Homo sapiens: one gene and its partners. The protein of the gene in region 3 interacts with the protein of the main gene of each other region in a pairwise test. Each region holds a gene or a part of one and is shown on either strand. Other genes may lie near its edges.

Region 1 (7,036 bases), on a different chromosome or scaffold from region 3:
GAATGTGCAACTGAGACACAGAGTGGTAAAAATGATACTTTCTGGTTCTGTTATATTTTTGGAGATATTAAGCTGACCACCAAATTACAGGCTTGTTAATCCAAACATAAAAACAAATGCATGTACTTAATTTATGTATCAAAATTAATCACCCTGGCCAGTGCGGTAGCTCATACCTGTAATCCCAGCACTTTAGAGGCTGAGTCAGGAGGATTGCTTGAGCTTAGGAATTGAAGACCAGCCTGGGCAACATAGTGAGACCTTGTCTCTACTGAAAAGTATTTAGCCAGGTGTGGTGACACATGCCTGTAGTCCCAGCTACTCGAGAAACTGAGGTGGGAGGATTGCTTGAACCCAGGGAGGGCCAAGGCTACAGTGAGCTGTGATCATAACACTGTACTCCAGCCTGGGTGACAGAGTGAGAACCTGTCTCAAAAAAAAAAAGAAAAAAATTAGTCACCCAATATTACTGAAAATAATAGTGCATGTTTGTATTTTACACGTACCCCTGAGCTATTTGGGGTCACAAGGAAGCTGTTAGTATGTGGTTCTCATATTCTTACCGTACAAGAAAGCAAAAGCCCCTTGAGGTCCCTCAGTATCCCTTCCCACCACCTGCTCCCCACAGGTGGAGAAATTGCCTGCTTTTAGGGAGATAGCAGTGTAGGCCTCTGAAGTAGAGGAGAGCCACCAGGGATGGGGAGTGGTTGAAGTATCTTTATTTTTTAATTATAGAAGTAATACACAGTTTTTTTAAAGTTTAAACAAAATATAAAAAGCAAACCCTCCCTTAGTCTCCATTACACAACTATATGTTAAGAATCTTATTAAACCAACTTGGTACTATTTGTATAATGCCTAGCAGTTTCAGAACGGGGCTGGGCACCTGGCTCTCAGACCCCCAGCTCTGAGACCCTCCATCCCCTTTTAGAAGATCTCATTGTTTTTAAAAATATCTCCTACCTTTTTATATTATTATTGATTGAATGCATGAGGTCAAAGTAATACATCTGCACATAAACCAAAAGGTGAGAATTCTGGGTAATACAAAATAACCCAGAACCCAAGCAGTCTTTTTTAAACTATAGATTATAACCCACGAAAAGGTCAGAAAGTCAATTTTGTGACTAGCATTCGAAGAAAAATGAACCAGAGTGGAAAATATATTTCAGTAAATGTGATGGTATGTGTGTTTGTGTGTGTGTCCTAGAATATGGTATAAATGTATTTCTTTGTCGGGGTTATGTTAGTGAGCATGTACCATTCTAGAAGGTGTAGCACCATCACTAGCCCAACAGAAATTTATCTTGGCCCAGCGCGGTGGCTCGTGCCTGTAATCCCAGCACTTTGGGAGGCCAAGGCGGGTGGATCACTTGAGTCCAGGAGTCCAAGACCAGCCTGGGCAACACAGTGAGACCCTAAAAAAATTTGTTTTAATAAATAAATAAGTTTATCTTGGCCAGGTGCGGTGGCTGACGCCTGTAATCCCAGCACTTTGGGAGGTCAAGGCAGGTGGATCACTAGAAGTCAAGAGTTCGAGACCAGCCTGGCCAATGTGGTGAAATTGTGTCTCTACTAAAAAAAAATACAAAAATACAAAAATTAGCCGGGTGTGTGGCTGGGCACAGTGGCTCACACCTGTAATCCCAGCACTTTGAGAGGCTGAGGTGGGCAGATCACCTGAGGTTGGGAGTTCAAGATCAGCCTGACCAACATGGAGAAACCTGGTCTCTACTAAAATTACAAAATTAGCCGGGCATGGTGGCGCATGCCTGTAATCCCAGCTACTCGGTAAGGCTGAGGCAGGAGAATCGCTTGAACTCAGGAGGCGGAGGTTGCAGTGAGCCAAGATAGCGCCATTGCACTCCAGCCTGGGCAACAAGAGAGAAACTCTGTCTCAAAAAATAAATAAATAAATAAATAAATAAATTAGCCGGGTGTGGTGGGCGCCTGTAATCCCAGCTACTCAGGAGGCTGAGACAGGAGAATCATTTCAACCCAGGAAGCGGAGGTTTCACTGAGCTGAGACCGCGACGAGCCTGGGTGACAGAGCAAAAAAATAAATAAATAAAGTTTATCTCTAAGAATCATAGAGATGGATTCCCTATAGAAACTCATAAGGTTGGTGAAATGATAAATGAGGCTTTTTTTTTTTTGGTTTGGTTTTTTTGTTTTTATTTTTGTAGAAACAGGGTCTGTGTTGCCCAGCCCTGTCTCAAATTCCTAGGCTCAAGAGATCTACCCGACTGGGCCCCTGAAGTGCTGGGATTACGGCCTTGAGTCACCATGCCAGCGAGTTAGTTTTTAAGCCGTGGTTTTGTGCCCTCAGTTCAAGATGCAGGTGCCTGTCTTTTACTGTTGAGAATTTGCACTAATGATGAAGGGTGATAAGAAACCATACCATAACTCAGCACCTGTTCTGTTTTTTACCGTAGGAATTGATTAGATTCTTACACAAGAGCATAGCTCAAAAGAGAAAGATTGTGTTAGGGTGAGGTTTACTGCAAGGGAGTGCTGAGGGCTGACACTGTGTGAGGCCTGGGCTAACGGGCCCAGGGCAAGGATATGCCCTGAGGTGATTAAGAACAGTGCTGTCTTCAGGAGCTGAGGGTCAGCAGGCAAGACAGACACAGCCAAAATGAGCAAGGTGGTGGAGGGGGCGGGCAGGTGTGCGGGTGTGGCTGGAACAGCCCGTCTTCAGGAGCTGAGGGTCAGCAGGTAAGACAGACACAGCCAAAATGAGCAAGGCGCTGGAGGGGGCGGGCAGGTGTGCGGGTGTGGCTGGAACAGCCCGTCTTCAGGAGCTGAGGGTCAGCAGGCAAGACAGACACAGCCAAAATGAGCAAGGTGGTGGAGGGGGCGGGCAGGTGTGTGGGCGTGGCTGGAACAGCCCGTCTTCAGGAGTGGAGGGTCAGCAGGTAAGACAGACACAGCCAAAATGAGCAAGGTGGTGGTAGGGGCAGACAGGTGTGCGGGTGTGGCTGGAGCAGCCACCTGGAGGGCACCCTGGACAGTTCTGGCATCCACGCAGCCCACGCCATCTTGGAGGCCAGTGCCTGGGCTTCTCAACTCCAACTTCCCGTCCAGGTTCAACTCCTTCCACCCGGACACGCGCAAGCCGATGCACAGAGAGTGTGGCTTCATTCGCCTCAAGCCCGACACCAACAAGGTGGCCTTTGTCAGCGCCCAGAACACAGGTGAGGCCCAGCTTGCGGGGCGGGAGGGCTGGCCATGGGAGGCTGCTGCCTGCATTCGAAGCAGGGGTGCAGGGATGCCCATGTGCAACCCTGCTGAGGCATGTGCTGGTGGGGACCGTGGGGATGGCCCTGAGTGTTGAGAGTGGTCCTGGGAGCCTGCGGGGCCGACTGTGTAGCTGTAGGGGCCTCCGGCACACAGGTTGTGTGCGTGCAGCCCCCTGACCATGAGGGCCCGTTTACCCAGTGCCACGTCTGCAGAAATGGCCATCAGCTGTGTGCATTCATTAGGAATTGCTGGAAAACAGGTTGGGCACAGTGGCTCACGCCTGTAATCCCAGCACTTTGGGAGGCCTAGGTGGGCAGATCACTTGAGGTCAGGAGTTCAAGACCAGCCTGGCCAACATACTGAAATCCCGTCTCTACTAAAAATACAAAAATTAGCTGGGTGTGGTGGTGCATGCCTGTAATCCCAAGCCACTTGGGAGGCTGAGGCAGGAGAATCACTTGAACCTGGGAGGCAGAGGTTGCGGTGAGCCAAGAATGCGCCACTGCACTCCAGCCTGGGCAACAGAGCGAGATTCTGTCTCAAAAAAAAAAGAAAAAAAAAAAAACCAGCCTGCGTGACTCTAGATCAGTGTTTCTTCCTGGACGTCCATTCCCACCTGCGACTTCTGCCACTGTATGTGCTAGGGGTGGTTCTGCCAGGCTGATTGGTGGGTGGAGGTGGGAGGGCTGGGGCCCAGTCTGGAGAGGGTGGCCTTCCATAGAGCACCTGCCTGTTCTGTGAGGAGAGTTGTGGCTTTCCCTCCGTATCCACAGGGTGAAGTGGGGAGGAGGAGAAATATCGTTGCTTCCACAGCTGCAGAGTTGGGGCCTCCTGTGGAGTCCCGGCTTGCAGGCAAGGAGAGTCAAGGCTGCCTCTCTGCAAGCCGAGCAGCTGCTGGGTGAGCTGACTGCCCTTCCCTTGCAGGCGTGGTGGAAGTGGAGGAGGGCGAGGTGAACGGGCAGGAGCTGTGCATCGCATCCCACTCCATCGCCAGGATCTCCTTCGCCAAGGAGCCCCACGTAGAGCAGGTGAGCCCAGCCCTGCTCCCAGCACGCTCCTGTCTTCTGTTTGCAGCGGTCTGTGGAGTCAGCCTCTTCCTCTTCCGTGAGGTAGTGCGTGTCTTGCCACTGTGTCTCACAGGCCTGTCTTCACTGTCTCCTTCTTTTCCCTTCTCGGACCATCCAGGGTGGATGTTCCCTAAATTCATTGCCCCCTCCTCGGCTGGTCAGTGGTGTGGTTTTTTTGAGGTTTGTTGTTTGTCACAAACATCCTTTTGCATTTGGGTTGTCCACGTTTACAGATATATCCATATCTATTGATAAATTTTTCCCAGTTAAATTGCTGGATCAAAGGACAGGTACATTTTAAATTTGATACACACTGTTAGATTGTATTTCTTCATGATTATCCTCCCACTATCTCTTGCATGAGGGCAGCTGGTTCCCTACTCCTTAACAACATGGTGTATTTTCAGAATTTCGGTCCTTTCAAATCTGAGAAATAAAAGATGAAATCTCACTCATGTTTTGAATCTAACTTAGAAGCAGGAGGGCTCATTCCCCATGCTCACTGGCTGTTTACGCTTCTTATTCTGTGCACTTGATATTTAAAGTCTTTGCCTGTTTTTCTGTGGATTGTTCTTTTTTGAGGCGGAGTTTCGCTCTGTTGCCCAGGCTGGAATGCAAAGGTGGGATCTCGGCTCATCGCAACCACCGCCTCTCAGGTTCAAGCGATTCTCCTGCCTCGGCCTCCTGGGTAGCTGGGATTACAGGCATGCGCCACCACGCCTGGCTAATTTTGTATTATTAGTAGAGACAGGGTTTCTCCATGTTGGTCAGGCTGGTCTTGAATTCCTGACTTCAGGTGATCCACCCGCCTCAGCCTCCCAAAGTGCTGGGATTACAGGTATGAACAACCGTGCCCGGCCAGATTGTCCTTTTTTTTTTTTAAAGATTTGTAGGAGCTTTCTGTATGCCATGGGTTAATCTGTTGTCTGCTTTATTTGTGACACATACTTCCCTAGTCTGTGGCCTGGTCCATGATGGGCTGTGCCCCACAGGTGCTCAGCTTTCCTGTTGTTGCCTCTGGGCTGTTTCCTTTACAATGTCTGGATTTGGGTTCTTGCTAAGGAAGTTGTTGTCCACTCCAAAATGATAAAAATATTCTCTCATTTTCTTTCTTTTTTTTTTTTTTTTTGAGACGGAGTCTCACTCTGTCACCCAGGCTGGAGTGCAGTGGAGCAATCTCGGCTCACTGCATGTTCTGCCTCCTGGGTTCACGCCATTCTCCTGCCTCAGCCTCCCGAGTAGCTGGGACTACAGGTGCCCGCCACCACACCCAGATCATTTTTTTGTGTTTTTAGTAGAGACGGGGTTTCGCTGTGTTAGCCAGGATGGTCTCGATCTCCTGACCTTGTGATCCACCTGCCTCGGCCTCCCAAAGTGCTAGGATTACAGGCGTGAGCCACCGCGCCCAGCCTGTTCTTTCATTTCTTGTATTCTTACAGCTTTCCTTTTTACATTACCACCTAGACCTTTAATCTCTCTCACATTTGTTTTTTGAGTGACGCAGCGTATAATTCTAACTCTTCCAGATGAGTGACCCAGTAGTCCCAACACCATTCATCGAATTCCATCCTGACTCCACAGATTTGGAATGTCATACATACATTAAAGCACATCCACATAAATATAGGGGTCTGTTTCTTTTTTTCTTTTTTCCTTTTTTTGAGAAGGAGTCTTGCTCTGTTGCCCAGGCTGGAGTGCAGTGGCACAATCTCAGCTCACTGTAGCCTCCACCTCTCGGGTTCAGGTGATTCTCCTGCCTCAGCCTCCCGAGTAGCTGGGATTACAGGCATGTGCCACCATGCCCAGCTAATTTTTGTATTTTTAGTAGCCATGTTGACCAGGCTGGTCACAAACTCCTGACCTCAAGTGATCCGCCTGCCTCAGCCTCCCAAGTGCTGGGATTACAGGCATGAGCCACTGTGCCCAGCCTCGTTTGTCTTTCTTCGTCTGCTTGTCCACTTCCTTACCAGTAACACATTTTTAGCTCTCACAGCTGTATATTACATGTTAATGTCTAAGGGAACGTTTCCCACATTTTTTCTCCAAATTTTCTTACTCATTCTTAAGCATTTCCTCTTCTAGATGAACTTTTGAATAAACATCTCAAGGCTTATAAAATGTACATCAAGACTGCATTGAATACATGAATGAATTTGGGTAGAATTGACATATTTTCATGGGTAGCAATATGCAGCGTGACAGTGTATTACGGTGACTTTAGGTCATGTTTTGTGTATTTTAGTATATAGAAAAGCTTTATTTCTTTATAGTTTTAATTATACAGGTCTTGTACATTTCATGTTAGGGTAAACTCAAGTGTTTTATCATTTTTGTTGCTTGTAAATAGATTTTTTCCCATTTAATCTTCAGATTGATTATTGATAATTGTGTGGACACTTCTGATTTCTCTGTGTTGAACTGGGCCACTGGTGTAACTTTCAGACAGCCAGGATCTTAGGCACAGCATGGATAGAACAACAGGCGTGAATGTTTGTTGCATGCTTGTCCCTGACTCTAGTGGAAATAGTTCTGTGTGTCACCACCTGTAAGATGCTCACTGTAGATTACTTACTGGTAGATAAGAAGGTAGCTTTTTTTTTTTTTTGAGACAGAGTCTCAATCTGTTGCCCAGGCTGGAATGCAGTGGCACGATCTCAGCTCACTGCAACCTCCGCCTCCTGAGTTCAAGCGATTCTCATGCCTCAGCCTCCCAAGTAGCTGGGGTT
Region 2 (7,036 bases), on a different chromosome or scaffold from region 3:
AGGATAGTCTTGATCTCCTGACCTCATGATCCACCTGCCTCAGCCTCCCAAAGTGTTGGGATTACAGGCGTGAGCCACCGCACCTGGCCACAAATCATTTTTAAAATTAGCAGTATGGTAGTGCACACCTGTCGTCCCAGCTGTTCAGGCAGTGGAGGCTGCCACTGCACTTCAGCCTGGCTGACAGTGAAACTGTCTCAAAAAAAAAAAAAAAAAAAAAAAAAAAGAAAGTGGGAAAGACTACCCATGACATGCAAAGTAGATCTAGAAGAGTCAATATACATCTAATAGGAGTTCCAGGAGGCATTAGAAATAGGAAAAGAAGAAATAACCACAGAGATAACAGAGATCGCGAAGGTAGGAGTGTCCAGGCACAGTCTTGGGCATCCTGAGCCAGGGAGAAATAAGTATCAGAGGACAAAGGACTGGCAAATATAGATCAACCCTTCCCTCTCTGGTCTGTTTCTTTGTCTGTACAGTGGGGACGAACAAGAAGTATGCCTTTTCTGAGAGCTTATGGAAAGATGTGTTAGGTTTGCTGACTGTTCCCCACTCTTCTTCCCTACCAGCTCACAGAAGGGATTGGGGTTGTGTGCCCTTATATGTTGTTTAACCTTTTTATCACATGTATTTATTTTGTGAAATTTTTAAAGTGTAAAAATTTTTTAGAAGTTAAAGCAGGGGTTGCCAGTATGGCTGGCTGCCTGTTTTAGTATAGCCTGTGATCTAAGACTGGCTTTTACACTTTTTATTTTTTTTATTTTGTATTTATTTATTTGTTTATTTATTTATTTATTTATTTTTGAGACAGAGTCTCACTCTGTTGCCCAGGCTGGAGTGCAGTGGCGTGATCTTGGCTCACTGCAACCTCTGTTTCCTGGGTTCAAGTGATTCTCCTGCCTCGGCTTCCTGAGTAGCTGGGATTACAGGTGCATGCCACCATGCCCGGCTAATTTTTAGTAGAGACGGGGTTTCACCGTGTTCCTCAGGCTGGTCTTGAACTCCTGACCTCGTGATCTGCCTGCCTCAGCCTCCCAAAGTGCTGGGATTACACGCATGAGCCACCGTGCCCAGCCCTATACTTTCTAATGCTTTGGGGAGAAAAAGAAAATAATGCTTCATGACCCATGAAAATTATATGAAGTTCAAATTTCAGTGTCCCTTGGAACACAACTATACTCATTCACTTACATATCATCTGTGACTGCTTTTGTGCTGCAAAGGCAGAATCAACTGGTTGTGACATTTACTGTCTGACCTAAAATATTTGCTGATTCCTGGTTTAGAGGTCAGAAATGGACTTATGCATATATAGGAATTTTGCTAATGATAAAGATGGCATTTCAAACTAGTGACAAGAGCATGGATTGCATGGTAAATGGCAAGAATTAGCTATCTATTTGAGGGAAAAATTACTTTTATTAGGATTACTTCAGGTAGGGAAGCTAAAATCAAGAAATAGGAAAAGATTGATAGATTTGAGTCTATTACCACCACCACCACCACCAACAAAACTTTGCTTAATAGGAAATAATATCTAACAGTTACTGAGCACTTATGCTTGTCATGTTTTACTTGAATAAGTGTTATAATTATACTCTAAGGTAGGTTCTGTAATTATTCCCACTTAACAGAGGAGGAAACTGAAGTTTACATATATTATGGAATTTGTCTGTAATGAAGAGTAGAAAACCATGATGCAGATCTTTGAATTCAGGCCATCTGGCTCCCAAGCCTATTGTGGACAAGACAAACTGAGAAAAAATATTTGCAACATGGTAACACCATTTTGTAGGTACTATCTACATCAGCACATAAAGATGTACCTAATTCCTTTAAAATATTCTGTTGTATAAATGTCTTCAGTTAATTTAACCTTTCCTCTATTGATGAACATTAAGTTGCTTATAATTTTATTTTGCTGTTACGTGTAACACTGATAAACATCCTATGTATGTGACTTTATATAGTAGTATGGATACTTCTGTAGTATAGAATCAGGAAAGTGGAATTGTGAATTGCTGGATTAAACGGCCTGTGCATTTAAATCAAGTTTGCTCTCCAAAAATGTGTGTGTGTGTGTGTGTGTGTGTGTGTGTGTGTGTGTGTGTGGAATCATAATAAAGGAATCATAATATCTTGGAAGGAACATTGACTGTTCAGGCAAAACTGCCTCATTTTTGAGAGGAGGCCCTGAGAGGTGAAGTGTTATGCCCAAGATTACATAGCTATTAAGTAGCTGTTACACTTGACTCTTTAACTGGTTTTTGCTGTGCCACAGTTTGGCACATTTTTCTCCTTTGTCTTGCTGAAATCCAGGTACCATGATTATAGTTTTCTCCAGAAACACGCTGTTAAAAGGATCCATTTGATATTACTTGTCCTTGGTACTCAGCACAGTGCCTGACACACAGTAGGTAATCAAGTATTTGTTGAAAAAGTGCTGCTTTCAGATGATCAGTACTTACAGACCACTTATTCAATAACATGTTGACAACCCATGCATCACTGTAATACTTATCAAGTAATCAAGAACTTATCAAGAAATGAAACATTCTGATCTCCTCCTTCCTAGATATTTACACTTCATAATGCTTTAGTTTTCTGACTGGTTATGTTTTCCAAATAATTGTGTGGCTTTGTTTTTGCTTTGTAAAAAATGAACTCAAAATTATAAATTTAGTTTTTGAAAACCTTAATGAGAAATTGTTCTGTGCAGAAAATTTAGGAAGATTATACAGAATATGTTTTATAATACACTCAAATGGATTATATCTTTCAGAGGGCAGTAGATTAGTCTTCCAAGTTAGCTTGACATACTGCATGCAATGTACATGTCCTGGAAATGATGCATAACATTTGTGTTCATAGTACCAAAAATTGTGTATAATCAAGATTGAGTAAAAACTCCTTAAGGGTCTTATTATTATGTAAGGGACCAGTGCTGTAGCATTAACTATCTTTAACACTTCTGTTGTCTCCAAGTCACAAGGCAAGGAGAAAAGATATGGTAAGACCTTTAAAGGAATATGTAAATATGTAGTACTCTATTTTTGGGGAGATGAGGGGCTTAGTTTTGTTTTTTAAATGCAAATTCATAATCAACAAATCTTTATACTTCAGTAAACAAACTGGAGGGGTTTTTTTTTGTTGTTGTTTTACAAATGCCTTTTTGGCACTGCTACTGAATCTGACTTGGCTTTATTTTTTAAACAGCTTCATTGAGGTATAATTGACATAAAATAAACCACATATTTAAAGTGTGCAATTTGATAAGTTTTAACATATGTATACACCTGTGAAATCATCACTGCAACCAAAGTAATGAGCAAATCCATTACTCCCAAAAGTTTTTTCACCCCTTTTTATAATTCCTTCCTGGTACCACCTCCCACAGGCAATCATTGACTGATTTACTTTCAGTTAACTACAAATTACCTTGCATTTTCTAAAATTTTATATAAATAGAATCATATAGTAAGTACTTCTGTTGCCTGGCTCCTATTACTCAGAGTAATTGTTGATATTTATCCATGGTGAAGCATGTGTCAGAGTTTATTCCTTTTTATTGCTAAGCAGTGTTCCATTGTGTATCTGTTTTACTACAGTTTGTCCATTCACCTGTTGGTGGACCCTGGGTTGTTTCTGGTTTTGGGCTCTACACCTAGAAGCTGCTATGAACATTTGTGTACAAGTTTTGGTATTGTTAAAGTATAAACTGAGGCAGAATAAAATTTTAAAGAGTTTTGTCTGAGCAAACAGCAATTCATGAATCAGACAGCAACAAATCAAAAGTGATTTGGGACTCCACCAAAGGAATGCAAGTGGAAGACTTCTATAGGATGAACAAGGAAACAAGGCAAAGAAAATATTTGATTAATTATATTTATATAGTTGCCTTGTTTAGTCCATCCTATTGGAAAGTCCCTAGTTATGTAAGTTAGTTGATGGCTTCTAATTGGCGTAGCCTAAGTTTGTTTGTTTCTTTTTTTTTTTTTTTTTTTTTTTTAAGAGACAGGGCTAGAGTGCTTTGGTGCGATCGTAGCTCACTGCAGCTTTGAACTCCTGGGCTCAAGTGATCCTCCCACCTCAGCCTCTCAAGTAACCAGGGCAACATGAACTACAGACATGCATCGCCACGCCTGGCTAATTTTTTAATTTCTTATAGAGGCAAGGTCTCGCTAGCTATATTGCCCAGGCTGATCTCAAATTCTGGCCTCAAGTGATCCTCCTGCTTCAACCTCCCAAGGTGCTTACAGGCATGAGCCACCATGCCCAGCCTGATTTTTCTTTAATATAGGCACAGACAAAAAATAACCAAAGTTTACATTTGCAAACAGCCCAAATTAAGTTTTGCTTCTATTGCTTATATTTGCAAGGTCAAGGTTGTTTTAATGGCTTAACTGGCTTTGTCCAGGGGATTTACAGACCTGGTCTCCATCTTATTTTAATAGTATGAATATGTGCTTTCATTTCTTTTAGGTAAATATCTAGGAATGGAATGGCTGGATCATATGAGTAGGCTTACTCACTTATTAAGAAACTTGGCCTGGACTACATAGCAAGACTCTCTCTCTAAAAAAAGATTTTTTTTTAATTAGCCAAGTGTATTAGTCTGGGTTCTCTAGAGGGACAGAACTAAGAGGATATATGTATATATGAAAGGGAGTTTATTAAGGAGAATTGACTCACACCATCACAAGGTGAAGTCCCATGATAGGTCATCAGCAAGTTGAGGAGCAAGGAAGCCAGTGGTGGATCAGTACGAGTCCCAAAAGTAGGGAAGCTAACAGTGCAGCCTTCAGTCTGTGCAGCCAAAGGCCCAAGAGCCCCTGGAAAACCACTGGTGTAAGTCCAAGAGTCCAAAAGCTAAAGAACTTGGAGTCTGATGTTCTAGGTCAGGAAGCATCCAGCATGGGAGAAAGATGAAGTCCATAAGACTCAGCAAGTCAGCCCTTCCATCTTCTCCTGCCTGCTTTATTCTACCCCCGCTGGCAGCTGAGTAGATGGTGCCCAACCAGATTGAGTGTGGGTCTACCCCTCCCAGTCCACTGACTCAAATGTTAATTTCCTTTGGCAACACCCTCACAGACACACCCATGAACAATACTTTGTATCCTTCAGTTCAGTCAAGTTGACACTCAATATTAGCCATCCCACCAGGTGTAGTGGCTCCCACTTGTAGCCCCAGATACTCGGGAAGCTGAGGCAGGAGGATCACTTGAGCCCAGGAGTTAGGCTACATTGAGCTATAATATGATAGAGGCACTGCGCTACAGCTCTGGTAACAGAGCAAGATGCTGTCTTTTTTTTTTTTTTAATAAGAAAATAATCTAACTTGTTAAGTTCATAACTTATTAACAAAACTATTTTATATTCCCATCAGCAGTGTATGAAAGTTCTAGTCCTTCCACGTTAACAACACTTGGTATGGTCATTCTTTTTAATGTTAGCCATTCTATTTTTAGCCCTTCTGTGTAGTGGTGTCTTATTATGGTTTGATTTGCATTTCCCTAATGACTAACAATGTTGAGCATCTTTTTTTTTTTTTTTTTTTTTTTTTTGTGGAGACGGGAGTCTCGCTCTGTCGCCCAGGCTGGAGTGCAGTGGCGGGATCTCGGCTCACTGCAAGCTCCGCCTCCCGGGTTCACGCCATTCTCCTGCCTCAGCCTCCCAAGTAGCTGGGACTACAGGCGCCCGCCACTACGCCCGGCTAATTTTTTGTATTTTTAGTAGAGACGGGGTTTCACCGTTTTAGCCGGGATGGTCTCGATCTCCTGACCTCGTGATCCGCCCGCCTCGGCCTCCCAAAGTGCTGGGATTACAGGCGTGAGCCACCGCGCCCGGCCGAGCATCTTTTTCAAGTGTTTATTTGAAGGGTTCAGGCCTTTTCCCACATTTTAATTGAGTTGTGTTTGTTATTATTTCATTTTGATCATTTTAAAATATATTCTTGGTACAAGTCCTTTATAAGACGCATGCTTTGCCCATATTTTCTCCAGGTCCATCACTTGTCTTCTCATTCTCTTAACAATGTCTTTGAAAGAGCACAGATTGCTAATTTTGATGAAATTCAATTTATCATTTATGCTATTGAATATCATATCTAAGAAATCTTTGCCTAACTCAGAGTGACAAAGATTTTATCCTATGCTTGCTTTTGGTTTTTTTCCATTTAGGTCTATGATTCACCTTGAATTACATGCTAGTGGATGTGGAGTGGTATCTAATTGTGCTTTTGATTTGCATTTCCTTTTTGGCTAATGGTGTTGAGCATCTTTTCATGTATTTATATAGGCCATTTATATATCTTCTTTAGAGAAATGTCTGTTCAGATCTTTTGCTTGTCGAGTTATCTTTTTTTTTTTTTTTTTTTGCTTTTTAAAGTAAGACAGACAAATGATTTACAAATGTTCTCTAATTGTATGGGTTATTTCTTCACTTTCTTGTTGATGTCCTTTGCAACACAAGTTTTTTTATTTTGATGAGGTCCAGTTAATATTTGTTTTGTCTTTGGTGTCATATCTAAGAAGCTGTTGCCTGATCCAAGGTCACAAATATTTACACATAGGTTTTGTTCTAAGAGTTTTCTAGTTTTGACTCTTATATTCAGATATTTGACCCATTTTGAGATAATTTTTGAATGTGGTGTGAAGTAGGAGTCTAGTTTCATTCTTTTGCCTGTAAATATCCAGTTGTCCCAGTACTATTTATTGAAAAAACTATTCTTTCTCCCATTGAACTGCCTTGCTATTCTTGTTGAAAATCAACTAACCATAAATGTGATGATTTATTTTTGGGCTTTAAGTTCCATTCCATTGACTATATGTCTATTTCTATGCCATACCACATTGTCTTAATTACCTGGGGCTCTGTAGTAATTTTTGGAATTGGGAAGTGTTTTCCTTCAATTTCATTTTTCTTGTTCAATATTATTTGGGTTATTCTGGGTTTCTTGAATTTGTATAAATTTTAAGATCAGCTTGCCAATTTCTGCAAGAAGTCCACTGGGATTCTTGAAGAGGATTGTGTTTAA
Region 3 (7,000 bases):
CGCCCAAGCTGTTCTCCCTCCCTGCTCTTCCCTAGCGAATCCTTCAGGACATAGCTTGGTGGGAGTTCCTCTCTGAGAAGCTCCTGCCGACTCTCCAGGTGGGGTCAGATCCCCGCCGTGCTTCCCTCTGCTCAGCACTGACCTGTCACTGTTCACTCTGCAGTTAGCCCGGGGTAGTAGAGGTTCCCCCAAGACAAGCATGGGTCAGATGCATGTCTCTTCCCCCAGTACCTAGCACAGGGGGTGGCACAAAGCAGGTGCATAGTGTTTGTGGTTAGAATAAATGAATAAGTGAACAAATGAATGAACACATGACTAGATAAAATCTAGCCCTCCTTACCCCCAGGCTTGCTGATCTGATCCCCAAAGCCTGGTCTCATCCACCTACCCACCACACCGTGTCTGCTCTTCTCCGGGATGTGCAGGGACTATCTGCAGAATCACCAGTGGGGCCCATTTTCTGACCTGGGGACTTCCTGAGTCACTGGGGCCCTCATTTGCCCTTGTCCTGGGTCATCTGTGAACTGAGCACTGCCTTGGCCAGGGCCCTGGTGTCTTGGCGGGAAGCAACAGCCTCTGCCACAGGGTTCCCTGCCCTGCTCTGCTGGATTTGTGGTCAGCAAGGAGGAATCCAGGACACCGGCTCTGCAAGCTTCAGTCCTGACCTGGCATCCACCCAGTGACATGAGTGGAAAAAACCTTTCACAGGGCAGGTTGAGAATGAAATCCCTGCCGCAGGGCACAAACCAGCCTTCTTGCCACCAATACGTGCCACCTTTCCCTTTTGTATCTGTTAGTATATGACCTGAATGTTTCTTTCATGTCACTCCTCTGCTCAAGAATCATCAATTAATCCCCCTTGCCCATCAGAACAAATCTGAGCTCCGTGGCAGGAATTCAAGAAGCCCCATGGCCAAGCTGCGGCCTCCCTCTCTGACCCTGTCCTCCACCACTCCAGCCAGGACAGTCTCCTTCTTCCTCCTTCCTTCCCCCAAGGCTTTGCCTATGCCATGCCCTCTGCCTGAGATACCCTCACTCCTTCATTCTACTGTTTTAAGTCCTGGCTTGCAACTCCCACCTCTTCTGGGTTGCCTACCAGCTATCCAATGTTTGATAACTCATTTAAGAAAAACAAACAACTAAGCCCTTCAGCACTTAAGAATCACCAGGCTTGCTTATGCAAAACCCAGGCCATCCCAGACTTTTCTGAGGATGGTTCTAGGACACTAGATTTTTAAAGTTTCCCAGGAGAGTCTGATGCCACCAGCCCAGCTGGGTCCATTGACAGGCACTTGGAAGCACTGACGATACAAAGCTCGAATTATACATGTGCTTGGATGACACAGTGCTTGTAGGCTTGAACGACCCAGGTGCACATGGGCACCTGATGTCTACACATTGTAACATCATCTCTGCAGGCAACACTAACAATGATAACTGACTTTACTGGGGGCTCACCAGGTGCTAGGCACATGCTACACTCAATATGCATGATCTCATCCAATCTTCACAACATGCCTATTGGGTCGATATCACTAACCTCAATTTATTAATAAGGAAATTGAGGGCCAGAGAGGCTAAGTCTCCTGGCCAAAGTCACAGAGCTGGCCAGTAGGGAAGCCTAGTCTCAAACCCAGCGCTGTTTACTCCAAAGCTGGTGCTCCTCAGCCCTGGGCTAGGAGTCCATGCCCCTGGGCCATGAGCCTTCAGAGTGGGCACCCGGTTCGGTTCAATTCTGTTCCACCAGCACTACTGTTCCTTGCTTTTGCTAAGTCCTGGGGATAGAAGTATTGGCGGGGAAGAGGCCCCTGTCCTTGAAGGACCTCCCAGTCCATGTGGGGAGACTGGTACTCACACAGCTAGTCATTCAGAAGTGCTGGGGACAGAGCGGGGCACACAGTTTAGGAGGGATTCGGAGGAGAGGGTGCAGTGGAGATGGATTCCACCGTGGAAGGGGAGAGCAGGGCTAATTCAGGCTCCAGGGAACAGGTAGGGTTTGAGGGATGACAGAGAAGGGGATGAAGGGCACCTGGGTGGAGGGAACAGCATGAGCCAAGGCAGGGTGGCTGGAAAGGTGAGGATGCCGGGGCTGCTGCACGGGAGCACATGGCAGATGATTCAGCTGGATGGGGCAGTTGGGGCCAGATCATGAAGGGCCTCAAATGCCAGCCTGAGGAATCTGAATTTTATCTTGTGGGCAATAGGCAGTCATGGAAGATGTTGCAGGGGGGTGTCTCCCTCCACACTAGCACAGGGAGATGCTCAGTGGAACCTTGCTGCCTGACTTATTGATACTGATTTTTCTCCTGTCCCACTAGGGTCAGAATGGCCTGGGGCTACTGGATGATTCCTGGCAGGAACAGAAAGCCCTGCAGCTCTACCTCCTCTCCTCCATTTAGCTCTTCTCCGCAAGGATGGGCAAATTATTCAGCTTCTCTGAGCCTCAGTTCCTCATCTATAAAATGGGGACAGCTGGGTGCAGTGACTCACACCTGTAATGCCAGCACTTTGGGAGGCTGAGGCGGGTAGATCATCTGAGGTCAGGGGTACAAGACCAGCCTGGCCAACATGATGAAACCTCATCTCTATTAAAAATACAAAATTAGCTGGGTGTGGTGGCAGGCGCCTGTAATCCTAGCTACTTGGGAGGCTGAGGCAGGAGAATCACTTGAACCCGGGAGGTGGAGGTTGCAGCAAGCTGAGATTGCGCCATTGCACTCTAGCCTGGGCAACAAGCGCAACACTCCATCTCAAAATAAATAAATAAATACATAAAAATAAAATGGGGACAATACACCAACCTTGCAAGCTGCGAGGATGAAATGAAGAAAAGTGTGCACAGCACAACAGGTGCATTGTTGAGTCTTATGACGTGGACCAGGTGGCATCGTGGGAAGAGCACAGGCTCAGAGGACCTATGTTTGAATATCAGTTTCTCCCCTGGTAATACCCATCTCTCAGGGCAGATGGAAAAATTAAATTCAATGAAATGATTTATGGGAAGCACCTGACACTCAGCAGCTGCCTGGAACCCTGTTTGACACCTGTCTGACAGCACAAGCAATCCTGCTCCTCCTCCAAGCTTCCAGGGTGCTGCCTCTCTCACTCAGCATGCTGCTCCCCTCCTGCCCCACAGGAGGCATTTTATACACCTTAGTCCCTGCACTTGCTGTTGGCTCACCTGCCTCTCAGCACTGGGCACACAGACTTTCTTTACCCCTTGCAAGAAGCTTTTACATGCATCTTCCTCCTGGTGAATGCACTCACCTATTGTTTTATTTATAGGCAGGACAGTGGCTCCCTGATGCATAGATGAGGGAAGAGACCCAGAGAGGGAAGAAGACCACCACTGTCTAAGCACCTAAATGTGCCTGAGGCATTATACCCAGTTCTTCTCCACAAAAGCCCAAGAGGGAGGTATTATCCTCCCCACTGCATAAATGTGGACATTGAGGCTCTGAGAGGGGCTGTGACTTGTCCAAGGCCACACAGCAAGGAACTGGCTGAGGCTGAAGGTAAAACCAGGTCTTTCTGATTCTGGAGCCTGGGATTTATAACAAACATTTGCAATGTGGGGTCGACAGATCGGTCCCCCAGGGCTGTTTCACGGACTAGATAGGGTAATAGGGGTGACGGTGTCTTGCATGGTGACAGGCACACAGTGCTCAGGGACTGGGAGCAGAAGTGGAATCTTGCCCACCCTCACCCAATTTTACAGAGAATAGAGGAGCCCAGGGAGGGCTGTGATGTACCCAAGGTCATGGCGAGCGGTCGGCAGAGCCCAGGTTCCCTGCCCCTGGGCCCCCTGCCTTCCCTTGCCCACCCTTTCCAGTTAAGGGCAGGGGCCATCCCTCCAGGGCCTTTCCCTCTCCAGAGGGTGGAAACTTCCAGAGTCCCTCCAACCTGACAGGAGAGTGACCAAGAGCAGGAATTTTCACCCTGGCACACACACCTGGAGCCTGGAGCTGAACGCTAGAATCCCAGGCTTTGCCACCCCAAAAGGCCCCTCCTGACCCTTTCAGAGCCTCCCAGCCTTCTCCCCAGGACCTTCACCAGCACCTTGCCCCTCTCCCAGTGGAGAGGGGGTGCCCCAGAGGCTCTGATGCTCTTAGAGGGGACTGCAAGTTGGCAAGGCCAGGGGCATGAAGCACAGTGTTTTATGATTTTATTTTATCCTAGATAAGGTTGAAGAAGACACCCAGTCATAGAATGAGCCCCGCCTCCTGACAGCAGCCGGTTCAGAGCAAAGGCCTGCTTCTTAAACCCTCGCCAAGCCACTGAGCACTGGCCCAAATCCAGTAACAAGTCCTTTCTAATACCTCTTTCAGAGACTCCCCCTGGTTCGCTGTGGTGTTCATTCCCCCTTACTGCAAGAAGAAACCCAGCTTGTTAACCACAGGTGAGGTGTGCTCCCAGTGGTCTTTGGCTGCAGGGCATTGACAAGATAGGTCCCATCAAACACCCCCATCACTTCCAAGATTCCAAGATATGCGCACTTCATCTGTCATTTGCACATGAGAAAGCTGAGGGCTACGGAGGCAACCAGACTTGTCAAAGGTCACAGAGTAGGTAAGGTAACATTGTATCATCCAAATGAGGTATCTTCGAGCGTGAAAGGGGCCTCCTAATAACTTAGCAGAGGCAGTCGGTGTCAACCGGGACCTTCCTGGGCAGATCAGGTGTGTGGTCTCCCCATCATGCAGCAAGAGCCAGGGAGACCAAGCCTGGGTCTCACCATCTCACTCCACTACCCCAAGCCCCCTGCAGATGCTAACTCTAGAACAGGGTTACCATCTTCCTGCTGGCAGGCCCAGCAACCAGAGGCTCTTGTTTAAGTCTAAAGCCACTGCGGTTGTGGTTCAGGGGTGTGGGGAATCACTCCTGAGATTCAGCACCACACAGCACACCCCACGGTCATGCCACTGCAGTGAGGGCTTACTTCCGGAAGAGGGCCTCTGGTGCCCGTCAGGCGTAAGGCCTCACGTATCCTGCCCCGAGGGAAGGGGTGGTTTTAAAGAAAAGAATTTGCAGGTGAATGAAGATGACCCCTTTAAATGTTGAAAGTAGTTTTATTTTAGCCCTTAGTGCTGACGCTGTTTCTAACGTGGGTTGTAGGCTGCCCTGCCTTAGGCAACAGAGCACAGGAGCATGCTACCCCTCACCTCATCCGAAGACTCAGCTGTGACCAGGAACTCCTGTCCTGAGTCATGACAGCAGAGAGGGTGTACCCTGTGGCATCCTTCACTGCAGAGGCAGAAATGACCCAGAAAGAAAAGGAAGTGTGTTCCCAGGGCCATGACCTTGTAACCCAGCACACAGGGGCATCTCCTTCCCTAGGCCAGGACCCCCGGCCTCAACCCGGAAGCCCTTCCCTAGGCCGGGAACCCCAGCCTCAACCCAGAACCCCATAGCCCAGGTGAAGGTCTCTGACTCCCAGGTGGCCCAGGGTGCAGGCTCTGAGGGCGTGGTCCTGGTTTGAGGTAGTGTTACTGCCATTTTCTCTGCAGCTGCCAGGATCCTGGGCTGGGGCACAGGCAAGCGTTGCAGGGATCAGCGTAACAATAGCATCACCCTGAGATGGTTCAATAGGGTACAGTGATGTCTTCAGGGGCTGCAAAGACAGCTTGAGCTATTTCCCCACCATACTCAACTGCCCCAAACAGCTGGGAGGCTGTCACTCTTCTGCCTCTGGTGTGTCCATTTTTTACTTCTCTGTTCCCACCTCAGCTTCTGCTCTGCACTCACAGAAATCAAGCTCACTAGATTGTGAGCCCTCTGAAGGCAAGCACGGTGTCAGTAGTTCATGTCTCTTTACCCCTAGAGATCACAGCTCAATATCTGGCATATAGTAGATGCTCACTAAATGCCATCCAATTCCAATTGTTTTGTTTTGAGGCAGGGTCTCACTCTGTCACCCAGGCCGGAGTGCAGTGGTGCGATCTCGGCTCACTGCAACTTCCATCTCCTGTGCTTAAGCTATCCTCCAGCTCAGCCTCCCAAGTAGCTGAGACTACAGGTGTGCACCACCACGCCCAGCTAATTTTTGTAGTTTTAGTAGAGATAGGGTTTCGCTATGTTGCCCAGGCTGCTCTCCAACTCCTGGCCTCAAGTGATCCACCCACTTTAGCCTCCCAAAATGCTCAGATTACAGGCATGAGCCACCGCACCTGGCTAGCCAACTGATTCAAACTGAAGTAGGCCAGGAAGATGAATTTCACCTACAATTCCAAGTCAAAGCAAATGTATTCCAGAGGCAGGGGTGGGGGGTGGTGTTCCTCTGGGGGCTTTTTGCCTGCTTTGTGAATACATACAGGCCATTTAGAAGTTTGAATGCTGGGAAGTAAGAGGGCTGTGAGTCTAAAAGTTGGGAACGTGGGGGAGAGTGATTTTATCTGCAACAGGTTCCTGGGTCCTGGTGAGTTCTGTACACCCTTGATGACCACCGATTCTGGGCCAGGCCAAAGGCCCATCTGGGCACAGGCGATCTCAAGGTGAGTAAAGTCAAGATGCTGCCCTTCAACGGGAGGCAGGCAGCCATGCCACACTGACAAATATACAGGTCCCAAAGGCAGCGCAGAGAGGCAAGACCACCTGGTTCCAGGAGGCAGCGACATCAGGAAAACCTTTCCAAGGGAGGTCATCTGTGTAGGGGTTTGAAGGGTGAGCACGAATTTGCCAAGCTGAAAAGGGAGCCAAGGGCATCCTGGTGGAGGAGAACAGCTTGGGCAAGAGTGTGAGCCGCAAGATGGGCAGGGGGGCTAGGCTTGGAACTGGAGGAGCAGAGAGAATGAGGTCAGCAGGGGTCAGTCACAGAAGGTTTTGGGTCCTGGCCAAGGAGCGATGGGAGCTGCAGGAGGAATGTGGCCCAGGAGGAGATGAGGCTCCCTCTGTGTAAAGACGGATCACGCCATCTACCAAGTGGACTATAAGACACAATAGGAATGGGAAACCTGACTGGCCTTCACAAAGGATCAGGGGCCCAGAGGGAGCACCAAGGAAG
Region 4 (7,158 bases), on a different chromosome or scaffold from region 3:
GATGGTGGCAAGGATGTGGAGAAAGGGGAACCCTGCTACACTGTTGGTGGGAATGTAAATTAGTACAGTCACTATGGAATACAGTATGGAGGTTCCTCAGAAAACTTAAAATACAACTACTGTATGATCTAGCAATTCTACTACTACGTATATATCCAAAAGGGAAATCAATACATTGAAGAGATATCTGCACTCACACGTTTATTACAGCACTATTCACAATAGCTAAAATATGGAATCAACCATCAATGGATGAATGGATAAAGAAGATGTGGTCTATATACACAATGGAATTTAGCCATAAAAAAAGAATATTGGGCCTGGCATGTTGGCTCACATCAAATCTCAACACTTTGGGAGGCCAAGGCAGGAGGATTGCTTGAGGCCTCCCTATTTCAAGAATATATGGAATAAAAATTTGGGTTTGCTATGTTTTTATTTTTATTATAATTTCTAATAAAGTTGTTTTTCCACTATCCCTTTATTGCTGCTTCTCAGGACTATTCATAAAATGACCAAAAATACAAAAAATAAAATGATAGTAAATGACAATGACTATTTTTCCTGATAATACCAAAGGTTAAATCAATACGTTTTTCCTTTTAGTAGCAACACAAGACAAGGGGATAGTTGCAAGAGGCTCCAGAGATCATTTAAATTATTTATGCGTAATTGGAACATATATTTGCTAGTGTACACTAGCAAGAAAAGAGCTGTAAACTGGCTATATGTTACTGCACCTTAAAAATGCATGTGGATGAATTTTCTTTTAAGAAAACTGTTAAACTAAAGAAAAACTATGTAACACACCTAGAATGTAATCTATCTGGCTCTGACAGATTCTCAAATGTTTAATCATTTAAAAAATTTGGGATAATAGTTTTTTGGAATTTTTTTTTTTTTGAGACAGGGTCTCACTTTGTCACCTACACTGGAGTGCACTGGCATGATCACAGCTCACTACAGCCTCAAACCTCTGGGGTCAAGCTAGCCTGCCACCTCAGCACCCTGAGCAGCTAGGACTACAGATATGTGCCATTATGCCTGAGTGACTTTTCTAAAATCTAAAATCAATTCTATATGTATTAAAAGTTATGTATTGCAAGCGCCTAAGGTCCAAAGTCTGGACTAGACTATTCACTAGCGATGATCTGGGCAATTAACTTCTTTGAATGTTAATTTCCTCATATGTAAAGTAAGAATAATGTCTACCTTGCAGGATTTTTGTGAAGAGCGAATAAATCAAATGAACCTAAAACAATGTTTGACATTTTGTAGGCCTTTGGCAAATGATAATTGCTACTTACAAAAGGCTATGATGTTATTTGGTTCTTTGGTGTCTGACCAATTTTAATCATGTTAGTGATTTTTTTCTTGGGCCTTGTTAATTGCAGTTCCCACAACTTCTCTTCAATCATCAACCAAGTTAAACTTATTTCATTCATCAGTTATTATTTACTGAAAACCTCCTATGTCACACACAATTTTAAATATTTATTCACTCTCTACACATAATTATTGTCAGAATACCTAGACAGAAAAATGCTAGAAAACAATGAATCTACAGAAGAAGTGGTTTATATCTTACTTTTATAGCACCCCAGTCAGATTATCATATAGCAAGATCTTAATAAAGATCTTAAACAGGGATAAAGTATATTTTCATAAACTATCACCATAGCAACATGTTCTATAAAAATATATTTTTTCAACTTATTTGACTAAGAAGAAAAGGATGTGAAATTATAGTAGAAGTGAAACAATAAAAAGGTTAGAAAAAAACAGGAAGCAAAACACGTTTACTAAATAACTATCAAGAGGATTCTACTGATACCTAATATACCACCACACTGCTTTATATAGTATGCCTTTAAAATATTAATAAAAGAATTTCTCACAGTAACAGGAAGAGACTCAAAAGCTAAGCAAAATAAAAACGACAGAAAGAACATGTGTACATGCCAAGAGTGGGCACTAATACTGTTCATTGGTGTACCGTACTGTGTGCTTTTTAGACTAAAAGATTTTCCAATGTTATAGTGAAGCCTATGAAATACCAACTACTCTAACAAGTTTTTATCCCATAAACCAAACAGATAGGAGTAAAAGATATGGGAATACATTTTCAATTTCATTGAATAGTAAGAATATTTCTGCTTGAAACATTCCTAGCCTGGCTCTCATTTCTACAATAGGAAACAGGATAAAAAGGGTGGCCTACACACCCTTTGAAATTCCATTTCTGAAATCACTGTCTTATTCTCGAATGTTAGAACTTTTTATGAGATCTGACATATTCTCAAGCAGCTGTGAAGTGCATTAAGGTATCAATGAGTATCCCCATCTACCTCTTCCCTCCCACTTTTCCAAAAATACAGCTGTCTTTGGAGACTTAAATGGTAAAAATCAACAGATAAAGGAGTCCTAGACAGATATGCAAAGTCACCTTAAGGATCAAAGCTGCAGAATAAGACATGGCAGTATGAGCATAATATAATAATAATTGATATTAGTAAAAGAACTCATCAATATAAATGGAGTGTGGATGGTCAGAAAAAGAAGAAAGTAAAAGAAAGCAAGATAAATATTGGCAATGCCTACTTAAATATCCATTGCCACGATAGGGATAACCTAGCTTCATGCTACCAACCATTCAGAATCGTAATTAATCCCCCATGCAGGAAGAAAAAAATATGATACTGGGATATGGGAGAAGGTCATCAAGCCTAGATTTGAAACCAGGATATAAAGAGCTGGAGTTACAGGCACCTACCACCATGCTCGGCTAATCTTTGTATTTTTAGTAGAGACGGGGTTTTACCTTGTTGCCCAGGCTGGTCTCAAACTCCCGGCCTCAGGTGATCCACCCACCTCGGCCTCCCGAAGTGCTGGGATTACAGGCGTGAGCCACCACACTCGGCCAGCGTTTTCCCTTAGACTCGAAATTTCGCTCCTATCGTCCCATCCTTGTAGTAAGAAAGTACTCTTTCTAAGGTTTAATAACAAATTTTACTCTTGGCAATTACAAGGAAATCGACTATATTAAAATAGCTAACGAGAGGAAATTACTGAAGCTACAAAGTCAAAGTCTCATAATCAAAGTTATCCTTGACAACTGACAAGAGTTGTTAGATCTTCTATTGGTCTTTCTGCTAATTCAACCCTAGTCTTAAAACAAAAATAGCCTCCTATTGCCTAATCCCTTGTACACACAAAACCACTGCACTTCGGTATTTCTAATACGAGAAAGTTTCTATATATCCAACCTTTCCTATCTTTGAGGGGCAGGCATGGTTAACGTGGTTCTCAGTAAGATATTCATTTACAACCAAGAGAAAATCCCAGGCTATCATCTCACATTCTTGTTTTACTTTAAAAACCTTTCTAACGTCATTTATTCTCTGACAACCTCAAAATTACTTTCTACAAAGCAAACTCTAGAAATCTAAAAATGCGAAGTGCGTGCTTGTGAGAAGGTACTAAGGAAATTCTTCCTTTAAACGTCAAATGTGAATTCTAACTTCTAATGAGTAAGACCCTCGAGATTTACAGCGGTGGTCTGGTGGAAAGAAAACCCTTGGCACTAGTAGCTCACAAAACCCCAGCCCATGGTTGAGGCGGAAGCGGCCAGATGCTCCCGGGCTTTCGACAAGCCGCCCTGGAAAGCAGGCCCGTCATCTTCAGCGGAAAGCTCTCTCACGTCTGGGCCCGCAAGCCCGGAGGGTTCGTCATAAACACACAAGGCAAGGATAGAAGCGAGGCCGAGGGGCTGGTCACGCAACTGTCAAACGAAGCCCACCCACCGACTGACAAGGCCCCAAGGGGACAAGCGATCCCCGCGCGGGATACTCACCCGTTACCTCAGGATCGCGACTACAACTCCCAGGAGGCTGCGCGAGCGACGGACCAACGCCCTTCCCAGAATGCAGCACAGCTGCATCCCTACCCCGCCCTCTCCTTTCTCCGCTCCTCCTGCTTTTCTACCCGTCGTCACCCGGGAGAGCCGGAGGTAGGGTTCGGGAGGAGGATCCCGAAGGCTCGGCGTGTCGCGTCAGACGCCGGGAGGGGGACGGGGCGGGGAGTAGTGGGGGAGAATGGGAGGACGAAGGGGAGGGGAAAGGACAGGGGAGGGGAGGGTAAATAGTGGGCCAGGCAGGAAGATGGCGGCGGTAGCGGAGGTGTGAGTGGACGCGGGACTCAGCGGCCGGATTTTCTCTTCCCTTCTTTTCCCTTTTCCTTCCCTATTTGAAATTGGCATCGAGGGGGCTAAGTTCGGGTGGCAGCGCCGGGCGCAACGCAGGGGTCACGGCGACGGCGGCGGCGGCTGACGGCTGGAAGGGTAGGCTTCCTTCACCGCTCGTCCTCCTTCCTCGCTCCGCTCGGTGTCAGGCGCGGCGGCGGCGCGGCGGGCGGACTTCGTCCCTCCTCCTGCTCCCCCCCACACCGGAGCGGGCACTCTTCGCTTCGCCATCCCCCGACCCTTCACCCCGAGGACTGGGCGCCTCCTCCGGCGCAGCTGAGGGAGCGGGGGCCGGTCTCCTGCTCGGTTGTCGAGCCTCCATGTCGGATAATCAGAGCTGGAACTCGTCGGGCTCGGAGGAGGATCCAGAGACGGAGTCTGGGCCGCCTGTGGAGCGCTGCGGGGTCCTCAGTAAGGTGAGCAACCCCTGGTGCCAAGGGACCCCTGGCCAGACTCACCTGCAGCGAGGCAATCCGCTGAGGCGGTGGGGTGGGGCTGGCGGGAGGCGCGGAACGTGCCGGGGTGCGAGGCTGAGTGTTGCTGCAGCGACTAGGGATGAGGCGGGGATATAGGGGCACTGTCCTTGTTGCCCGGGGGCTCGTCGGGGGCAGCCGAGGACCAGGGAAAGGGTGTATAAACCTGAGATCCAGTTTGGGAGGCCAGATGCGCGCCGTGACTTGGGACTTAGGGCGGCAGCTGTCCCGGGTGTAAGGAATCCGGGTTGGGCTTCAGCGGTGTCCGAACGACTGGGCATGGGAGCGGTTCAAGTCGGACCTCTTAAAAGAGGTTGGTCTCTCTGAGGATGCCAAGCCGAGTAGGTTGGGGGGCACTGCGGACGCAACTCTTTCGACAGAAGCTGGAGCGACTCAGCTTGGTGTTGAAATTTGAGGTGTTGAATTCTGCTAGGTTAGATGTAGTGAGACAGATGAATGTGGAGGACTTTCTCCCTCACCCTGTACCTTAGTTCAGAATAGAGATATTGAATCGGCACATGATGGGTACAGGAAATATTCATAGTAACTTGGAACATGTGAGAATGGAGACTGATCTTTAGTCCAGGAAGAGCATTACTTAATAATAAAATATTTTTGCGGTAAGGGGTCGAGGGTAAGGAAAAGATGTTTTATCTTTTATATATTTTTTAAAATCCCTGTATCAAAATTTTAGCAAAGCAGTCATTATAGGACTGCAGGTGGATGATCTCTTGATATTACATAGTTGTGGGGATTTTTTTTTTAAGTTTTTGCTGTAAGAAGATTCACGTAGCCTTTTTGACTTCTCTCTCCCTTCCTGTTAAACTTTTTTAGACATGGCTGGAGCTAGCAGTTAACTTGGAGAGGGGGAGCTGGGCCAGTCCCTCAACAAGCTGGTCATAAGATACTATGTCATGTGCAGCCAGTGGCTATTAAGAAATCACCCTGTTTCCAGTATTCATATTTGGCAAATCACTTGGACATTATTTGTGGAATTGTTTCATATTAGGCTTTTATAATGTCTAGAAAGCTAATGAGAAGGGGGCCAGGAAAGGCATGAGTAGTCAGAACTAAGGATTGCAAGTGTTGACTTTTATTTGTATAGCAGCAAAATTATGTTGTATATTGATGCTGTGATCATTCTTGAAATTTCAGTGCAAGGTTTTCAGTAACGAGAAGCTCCTCAGGATTTCTTTAGATTAAATGTATCCTGTAATTTAGGAATCTCTATTGAACACATTGTGTAGTAGGTATACATTTTCAGTTGGTAATAGGAAGTGGGTTACTTGCTTCTCAGTGATTTTGGTAGTTTCATCACTGCTCATAAGATGGGAAGCTGACTGCCATATTAGTATTGTGATGTGTTAAGTATTTTACGAAACAAATTGTACTTTTGACCTACTGATAATTACTTTTTTGGGGGTTGGGGGAGTGGAGTGACCGGGGGAAAAAGTAACCAGTGCTCTGGAGTAGGTATACTATAGATAAAAAAATGGAAGACCAATCTCGATATTTAAATGCATACAAATGTATTTGATCACCTCTATGGAAGGTGAATAGCTTAAATTTTGACTGTTGCTGCATATGTAGAATGAATAGGAATAAAGCTTTTGGTATTCTTGCTCAAAGCTATGAAGGAAATTTTCCTGAGATTTACCAATTTATGGTTATATACAGTTTTCTGGAAGCTTTTTAATCAAGGGTATTCTAAATTGAGTATATATACTCATACTGAGTATGGTAGATGTTTTTAAATGTAAATTATATAGTTTGAATTCTTTGTATTCACCTGGTAATTTAAACAAAGGTCAGAACTCGGATTTTGTTCTTTTCCTTCCATTGAGTAATGTAAATAAGTCCCGGTACAATTCATTTTGTTTCTCCCCCAAAATGGGGTGGATTTGGAATGGGCTTGGGTAAATTTATATTAGAAATATACCAGTTCAAAGGGTATTTTCCATATGGTAATCTGAAATACATGGAAATACCTATGAAGCATATTTCTTATAAATCACTTAAGTGTATAGATTCCAAAAATACTAGATAGACAATAATTCTATCTAGTTATAGCAAGTATCGTGATGGATCATGGTGGGGAAAAGATGCATGCCTTAGTAGGACTTGAGAGCACCTAAGCCTGGATAAAATAATCTCATTCAATTTCTGAATTTCCTCCATCCTTCATGGTTTACCTTCTGTTTTTCCACACACCAAACTGTTTGAAATTCTGTCCATCCTTAAGAGTCCAAGCCAAATACTGTCCTTTCCATAAAGCCTTTTCTTATTTTGCCATCATTCAAGACCTCCTTCACTTGAATTCCCATAGCATTTTGTTTGTAGCTTGCTTCTGACTCTTATTCTAAATATATATTTTTTTCTCTTGAGTTTGTGTCTGCTGGCCTGTTGGCCACAGTAATATTTGATTCCCCTGCAGTGTCTAGCATA

Evidence for each region.
Region 1: the proteins of BSND (region 3) and THAP4 interact in binary tests that used the Homo sapiens proteins (3 or more experiments, as listed by UniProt).
Region 2: the proteins of BSND (region 3) and CSGALNACT2 interact in binary tests that used the Homo sapiens proteins (3 or more experiments, as listed by UniProt).
Region 4: the proteins of BSND (region 3) and CERT1 interact in binary tests that used the Homo sapiens proteins (3 or more experiments, as listed by UniProt).

The regions. Positions count from the first base shown.
Region 1 is NC_000002.12:241,599,131-241,606,166, reverse strand, and holds part of THAP4 (peroxynitrite isomerase THAP4), read left to right. Parts: intron 1-3,087; coding exon 3,088-3,197; intron 3,198-4,167; coding exon 4,168-4,271; coding exon of another isoform or gene 4,272-4,352; intron 4,353-7,036. UniProt on the Homo sapiens protein: Heme-binding protein able to scavenge peroxynitrite and to protect free L-tyrosine against peroxynitrite-mediated nitration, by acting as a peroxynitrite isomerase that converts peroxynitrite to nitrate.
Region 2 is NC_000010.11:43,141,426-43,148,461, forward strand, and holds part of CSGALNACT2 (chondroitin sulfate N-acetylgalactosaminyltransferase 2), read left to right. Parts: intron 1-7,036. UniProt on the Homo sapiens protein: Transfers 1,4-N-acetylgalactosamine (GalNAc) from UDP-GalNAc to the non-reducing end of glucuronic acid (GlcUA). Required for addition of the first GalNAc to the core tetrasaccharide linker and for elongation of chondroitin chains.
Region 3 is NC_000001.11:55,008,933-55,015,932, reverse strand, and holds part of BSND (barttin), read right to left. Parts: 3' UTR 1-7,000.
Region 4 is NC_000005.10:75,508,610-75,515,767, reverse strand, and holds the start of CERT1 (ceramide transfer protein), read left to right. Parts: upstream 1-4,138; 5' UTR 4,139-4,262; coding exon of another isoform or gene 4,263-4,560; coding exon 4,561-4,656; intron 4,657-4,698; exon of another isoform or gene 4,699-4,994; intron 4,995-7,158. UniProt on the Homo sapiens protein: Shelters ceramides and diacylglycerol lipids inside its START domain and mediates the intracellular trafficking of ceramides and diacylglycerol lipids in a non-vesicular manner.